Linked DNA regions of Homo sapiens. The gene in region 1 interacts genetically with each later gene. Each region holds a gene or a part of one and is shown in the gene's direction. Other genes may lie near its edges. The genes, in order: MAP3K1 and FGFR2.

The links.
Region 2: changes in MAP3K1 (region 1) and FGFR2 together harm fitness more than expected from each alone (negative genetic interaction), as found in Homo sapiens cells (one large-scale study listed by BioGRID).

What each region holds. Positions count from the first base shown.
Region 1 is NC_000005.10:56,818,311-56,822,134, forward strand, and holds part of MAP3K1 (mitogen-activated protein kinase kinase kinase 1), read left to right. Parts: intron 1-1,922; exon of another isoform or gene 1,923-2,435; coding exon of another isoform or gene 2,436-2,506; intron 2,507-3,824. UniProt on the Homo sapiens protein: Component of a protein kinase signal transduction cascade. Activates the ERK and JNK kinase pathways by phosphorylation of MAP2K1 and MAP2K4. May phosphorylate the MAPK8/JNK1 kinase.
Region 2 is NC_000010.11:121,486,915-121,490,738, reverse strand, and holds part of FGFR2 (fibroblast growth factor receptor 2 isoform 1 precursor), read left to right. Parts: intron 1-2,625; coding exon 2,626-2,748; intron 2,749-3,314; coding exon 3,315-3,385; intron 3,386-3,824. UniProt on the Homo sapiens protein: Tyrosine-protein kinase that acts as a cell-surface receptor for fibroblast growth factors and plays an essential role in the regulation of cell proliferation, differentiation, migration and apoptosis, and in the regulation of embryonic development.

The sequences.
Region 1 (3,824 bases):
AACCCTTAATTATAGCCAACTCAATAAAATATCAATTGAACTTTATGTTTTACTTTTTTTTGACAGTTAAGTTACATTCATACTTCCAAGAGGAAAATCTAAGATTTTGAAATATTTGAGAGTTCTGTGATCTTTTTTTTAATTTTAGAATTTCCTTCTGATCTTTGAATGTAGAAAATATACTTTGAATTAGAATTTATATAAATAAATAATACTCGTATTTAAATAGAAGATTTTAAGTTTGTCCCTCTTTTTCAGGGTGATAGCTGAAATCAGTGAAAGTGCCTGTAAGTGGCGCCCAAGGGTTTGGAATTTTTCCTTATATTACAGAATTTAGGGGCTTTTTCTTCCTATTTACTGTCTTTGAAGAAAAATTACAGTGTTACTCTCCATTGAACAGCCTATTGTGAGTTTGGTAGATATAATTACCCCATCCTATTTTTGTAACTTAAAAAACCAAACTATCAATTTGCTGGCCCCGTGAAAGAACAAGATATGCTGTACTTGTTAATGTTAGTTTTTGTTTAAAACTAAAGGTATTTCACAGGCTGCTTTTATATCCTCATATAGCCCTCAGATTTCACTTCCTTTTTAAAGCTATTAGGCTAAAAATATGATTTAGTGACCTTTTACTAAAGAGGAGGTATAAGAGCATTATTACCTAAAAATTACTCTTAAAATATTAAGTGGGTGACTTTATAAAAATAAAGGTAGTCACATAAGTTAGTCTTCCGTGAATTTGTAAGTTTTTAGTTAAGAATGGTGTCAGTTTCATTTTAAATCAGATAAGAAAATTAATGCATTCTTCAAAGATGAACCTTAATATAATTCTGGAAGAGAAATATAAGAGCTAGAATTGTTGCCAACTTTTATTTTCTTTTCATATCTGATTTTGGCAAGAGTGACTGGTTAACCAACATTCCTTAATATACGATTTCCAATGCACTAAAACTCCATTTTGTTAGATACGAAAAACAGGAAGTAGCCCTGTTCATTGATATTCATTTACAACTTCCATAGCACCTCGAGCATAATATGTTGCATATTTTAGAAATGGCCACTGACTTGTCAACTTGCAGATTTCAAAATGTGGGAAGAAAGGAGTGTTTTTTTGCTTTCAACAAGAGCAAAAAAAAAACCAGCTACAGCTTGCCTAGGCTGAGTCGGCTAATCAGTCCTTGACACTGGCTGTGTGCATCCCAAAGGAAGAAATGAGGGGGTGGCAAGGTAGTTAATGGGGAATGGATTACCATGAGGAAAAATATGGGGCATTCAGAAATGCTCTCAGGTAGAAAGCACCTCTTTTGCATTTTGTACTCCAGTCATCTTCTTGGGTTGAGGGCTGTCTGTTACACAGAAGGCGATGGGAAAATGTGTCATGGAAAAGTAGTAGTCTCTAGAGGCTGCTTAGGAACTGCGTGTATATTACACCTCTAATCTTGGAATTCTTTGCTTCTATCAAATATATCAAGTATAGACTTGGTTGTTTTCCTTAGTCCTTGCCTCTTTCTATATCCTAAGTTAAAAGCTAAAGCAACTTAAACATGTAAATGGTAGACTATTAATGTGAGGAAATGTGTAAGATTAGGAGTAACCCAAAGTTGTCTTTAAGAAATTATTTAAGAACATGTTTAATCATGAAAGAAATAATCAGGGCCGGAATTAGTAAATGGTTCATTGCAAAGCATGAGATTAGTCAGATACTCTTTTCAGTTTGCAAAAATATATTAGGATTTTATCTGTGGCTTAAAACATACTCATTGAGCATATAGATATGCCTAGATACCTTTTACATAATCAACTCTTTTGCCTTCTGTGTGTGTGTATGATATCTATTATATGTATTATATATATGTTTATATATAATCTCATTTGATCATCACTGCAGCCCCCTAAGATAGTGTAATTTCTGTTTTCTGTAGGTGCAAACTCATCTGAGATGGTAAAACCTCATGATTACACAACTAGAAGACAGCTAGGATTCAATCCCAAGTCAGACTGACTCCACAGTCCATTTCTTTCCACTACTCTGCTTCTTCCATTTTCTTTTTTCAAATTAATAATCAAATTAATTGATTATTTTTAAGGAGAAATTTGTTTTGCAGGCATTCTAATAGACCATGAGCTAGGTCTCTACCCTGTGCTAAGTTTGCCTGTTAATGTATATAATAGGTATGTTTCTGTAACCTGGCCTTGTATATGTAATACAAGTAAACTGTATTTGGATCACCCTATCATGTCAGCCAAAGAGGGTTAGTCATTAGTGTTGAATGTTTCTTAGATTTATTGATTTGTGCTGTATTAAATCATAAGTGAAAGGAGATAAGCTGAAATTAATATGGTTCATTCATGGTAATCACACAGGAAGAGAAACTTTTACTATTGCTAGACCCTACCCCTTTGTTATTGTTTTAGATTTCATCCATTCAACATTTATGAACTTCTGCAAGGTGGTGGTCTTGAGTGGTGGAGAAAAAGATCATGAGTGCACAAGCTGTTTCTGTCGGTAGGTTGTAGTATGAACATGTTTCACAATACCGTGTTAAGTGCTATAAGAGAGATGGGGATACAGAGGGGATACAACATATTAGTTTCAAACTATTTCTGCCTATTTTCTGATAAGAATATATACAACACTGCATGTTCAGGCATGTTTTTTTTTCTTCCAAGGGAAAATTAAAAAGGAGATACGGGGAGCAAGAAATTCAACATCTGCTACTGCTAGTTCTGAAATTCTGTCTTTATTATTAGTAACAGCAACTCTACTAGTTACGAAAACAACATGGAGAAATATAAAATATTCTTTAGGGCATAAGATGATCAAGAAGATAGCCTTGTCTTTATTTACTCTATGGCATGTCATTGGTGATTGAGTTATGTTTGGTATGGAAGGGAGTTCTGTATTGTTAGTGATTGAGTCCTTTGGAATACCAGGCTGGTTTGATGCAGATGTTAATTTGATCGAGATGTGGAGATGTTGTAGCATACTAAGGGGAATTGTTAAAACTCACCAAGTGTATAATTCTGCAAGTACACATCTGTCACCTGGGAATTACTAAGCCACCAGACCTCTTGAAGCCTGGAGAAAGTGCTTGGAGCCACATGGGACAGCCTACACAGTACTGTAGTTAGTACGTTAACTAAGTTCATCACTTGTAAGCATAATGATGGATAGACATGGAGTGAGAACAGGGTCAGTACTGGGGTGTAGGTGGAAGCTTTGCTCTTGACAGATGTTATCATTACTTTTCTTTTTTTATTTTTAAATTAGAAATGGGTTCTCACTATGTTGCCCAGGCTGGAATCGAACTCCTGGGCTCAGGTGATCTTTCCACATAGCTGGAACTATGGGTGCAAGCCACTGTGTCTGGCTTTACTTTTCTTCATTGCCTAAACAATAATTTAAGTTATATGTTAACACATAATCTTCAAACTGGTCTTATGGTATTCTGAATACTAAACATCAGTTGTTAACAGACCAGGAACTTTATCTGATTCTTTGCACCATCTCCCAGCATCTAGACTAGTGTCTGGCACCCATGAATATTAGGTACCCAGAAATGTTAACATGAATTAATTTTCCAAAAGTGGTTAAATTAGTATATCTGAAGATTAACTTACTGTAGTGAGATTTTAATCATGATCTAGCTTAAGACGAGTTTTGAAGGCAAGAACTGTCTTTTTTTAGGAGTTTTTGTATATCGTTTGGTATTTATTTATTTATTTTTGAGACGGAGTCTTGCTCTGTTGCCCAGGCTGGAGTGCAGTGGCGCAATCTTTGCTCACTGCAGCCTCTGCCTCCTAGGTTCAAGCAATTCTCCTGC
Region 2 (3,824 bases), on another chromosome or scaffold:
ATTTCGTGGAGTGCCTAAGATCGCCCCCATTTCAGCCTTGTTGAATGGACTGATAAGACTTTCTGCTTCGTATGATAGTTAACCTTTGCCAATAACCAGTGTAAAAGGCTTCGGTGGTGATATTTGCTTCTTTGTGTCTTATCTCTTCCCAAAATAGAAGGTGATGATTGGAGACCCTAATTACCTTGTATCTTGTGGAAATCTTGCTATATGAAAGTGTAACAAAAATGCAGCAGCTCACAGTAGCGTATCATTTGTAGAAAGGAAAAATCATAGGCCGGGCGTGGTGGCTCACGCCTATAATCCCAGTACTTTGGGAGGCCGAGGCGGGTGGATCACTTGAGGTCAGGAGTTTGAGACCAGCCTGACCAACATGGTGAAACCCTATCTCTACCAAAAATACAAAATTAGCCTGATGTGGTGGTGGGCACCTGCAATCCCAGCTACTTGGGAGGCTGAGGGCAGGAGAATCACTTGAACCTGGGAGGCAGAGGTTGCATTGAGCCAAGATCGTGCCACTGCACTCTAGCCTGGGAAACAAGAGTGAAACTCCGTCTCAAAAAAAAAAAAAAAAAAAAAAAAAAGAAGGAAAAGTCGTAATAGCTAGATCTTTCTGAGACCCAAGAGTTAGTGTCAAGACAATAAATTAGCTGTTCTGCAGCAAGTATTTAATATTTCAGTGTTTAGAATCAGTGTATGTGGCACATTCAGGCTGAGGCCAGGTGTTAGGAGAAACTGGACTGAGAACGTGGATAGACGGGCATTGGCCATGGTAGAGACCAAGAAAGGACATGACTAGTCATTTCAGGAACCTTAGTCATGGGACATGGAGGAGGTACAACAGGGCTAAGTTTGGAAGCGTAGAGACCCGCTAGACGGGCAGTGTGGAAGTCTCAGGGGGAGGGGCAGACAGTGAAGATGGCCTGGACTAAGGCATTAGCAGTGGGAAAGGCATGGTGTGGACACATGGGAAGGCATTTTGGAGTTGAAATCAACAGGACTTGGGAGGAATGTGTAAAGAATACCGGTGTATAGCTCTCCGATTAAGAGAGACAAAGCATTGGAGGAGTTGAAACCTTGAATTTGAGACGTCAAGGGAATGTCAGTGGGGAAGTGTCCCATAGACAGTTGAAAATGAGAACATGGGTCTCAGGAGGGAGGTCATGATGGAGATACGAACTTGCGCATATTTTGTATGTGTTTAGAATTAATGCCTTGAGGATATATGGAAATACATAAACTTAATGGAACAATTCCTCTATTTGAAGGGACAGAAAAAGAGAAGAGCCAGCCAGAGATTCTAAGAGGGCAGGGAGAGACAGAGAGGCAGCTGAGGGAAGGGGACGGGATAAAACTAAACAGAGGGGCTGGGTGTGGTGGCTTACACCTGTAATCCTAGCACTTTGGGAGGCCGAGGCGGATGGCTCACCTGAGGTCAGGAGTTCGAGACCAGCCTGACCGACATGGTGAAACCCCGTCTCTACTAAAAATACAAAATATTAGCCGGGTGTGGTGGCAGGCACCTGTAGTCTCAGCTACTCGGGAGGCTGAGGCAGGAGAATCGCTTGAACCCAGGAGGCGGAGGTTGCGGTGAGCCAAGATCGCACCATTGCACTCCAGCCTGGGCGACAAGGACAAGACTCCATGTTAAAACAAAAAAAACAAAAACAAGAAAACCTAAACAGAGGGACCATTTTAAAAAACAAGCAAGAAATCAATAGCATCTGAAGCCACAGAGGAGGAACAACTGAGGAGTTGGAGGACGTCATTTGCGTCTAACAATTCAGAGGTTCTTCATAAGCTTCAGGAGAGGCAAGAGTGGAACACAGATTAGAATGTTTGAGAAGTGACCAGGAATGAAGAAGACACAATGTTGGATTTTAACCAACGCTTCTGAAAATTCAGGTTTAAAGGGCAGGAGAGCAAGTGTTGAGAGAAAAGATTTTAGGATGATCAGATACAGATCTATAAGCAGCTGAAAGAAAGACACTGGTGTGGCTGGACAACTGGAGGTAGAAGAGAATATGGTTATTTAGTCTACCTTCGCTCTTCAAAATGATCATTCTATTTATTTATAATTCCAAAACAAATACATGTCGTGATCCAGGCTCTCCGATGATCCCAGTTGACCTGTCTTCTTAATCTTAGAGCCACACTGCGTTTTCTTTTCTTTTCTTTCTTTTTTTTTTTTTTTTTTTGAGACAGAGTCTCACTCTGTCACCCAGGCTGGAGTGCAATGGCGTGATCTCAGCTCACTGCAACCTCTGTCTCCCAGGTTCAAGTGATTCTTGTGCCTCAGCCTCCTGAGTAGCTGGGACTACAGGTGCACACCACCACGCTCGGCTAATTTTTGTAGTTTTAGCAGAGATGGGATTTTGCCGTGTTGGCCAGGCTGGTCTCGAACTACTGACCTCAAGTGATCCGCCCACCTTGACCTCCCAAAGTGCTGGTATTACAGGCATGAGCCACCGCACCCGGCCACACTGTATTTCTTATAGTATACCGCAACTGGTTTTTAACATCAGCTATATTTTCTATCTGCATTTTAAGAAATGAACATATTTCCTTTTTGTTCTGGCGGTGTTTTGAAATTAGTTATTTCTCTTGCTTCTTTCTTGATTTCAGTGTATTCATCGAGATTTAGCAGCCAGAAATGTTTTGGTAACAGAAAACAATGTGATGAAAATAGCAGACTTTGGACTCGCCAGAGATATCAACAATATAGACTATTACAAAAAGACCACCAATGTAAGTCGATGGCAGTAACACAGTGGGCAGGGGCGGGGGTGAGGCTCAGAATGTTCCAGGAAGAAAGGCCGTCAATGTTGAGAGCTGGGTGGGATGGCTGGGGACCCATTCCCCTGCCCCGATTCCCGTTCTTTTGACTTACTATTCACAAACTCTCAATATGCAAATTTAGCCTCTATTATGTCAATTTTAGTAAATGTGAAACACTTATATACAGAATAATCAGCAACCGCTAGGATTTTCTTATGGTTCTCATCAAGAACTTTCATAGCAAAAACTACAGCTTGGAAGTTACTGGTTTAATTTTTGCCTAATAACTGGTCAAGGAGCATCTGTGTGCTAGGGAGATAAAGGATAGAATCCAAGGAGATGGCATTTTATTAACGGCCCAGACCTGTGCATCTCACACATTGTTCATGGTCCTCATTGGGACTGATTTCTGCTCTATTGACTGACTAGTAAAAACCGAGAATATCAGCTCTTAAACAGGGCATAGCCCTATTGAGCCTGCTAAGATAAATTCTTTTAAATATATTTAGTTTTTGCATTTTCCTCTACATTTGCAGGGGCGGCTTCCAGTCAAGTGGATGGCTCCAGAAGCCCTGTTTGATAGAGTATACACTCATCAGAGTGATGTGTGAGTAACTCTCTTTTCTCTGGCTTTTTCCTGGGCTTGAGCTGCAAAAATACTGTACGTACTTCACCTTTCTTCCTTCTTTAGTGGCTGCTGCATTTCACACATTCGTAGAAGGTGCAGGAGCTGGCCTTAGAAAGGACAGATTTTATGGTAGGCTGATAACCAATGCTCTGTTACTAATCTGCCTGGCTTCAAAGAGCACAGAAGGTGGAACTGCTGACCTCCCCCTGCCAGAGCGGAAGTCCTTCCCTTGAACATATTCATGGATGTGCAACTACAAAGCGGTTATCTAATTCGCCAAGCTCTTGGCATGTTCTTCACTCCATTAAAGGAGTAATCCTGGAGCTTTTCCCACTTACGAGTAGTTTGTCATATTTCCCTCTAACCCAGATTTGTCCTTAAAGAGTGGAGCTGAGTGAGATGTGGTCCAGGCTGGGGA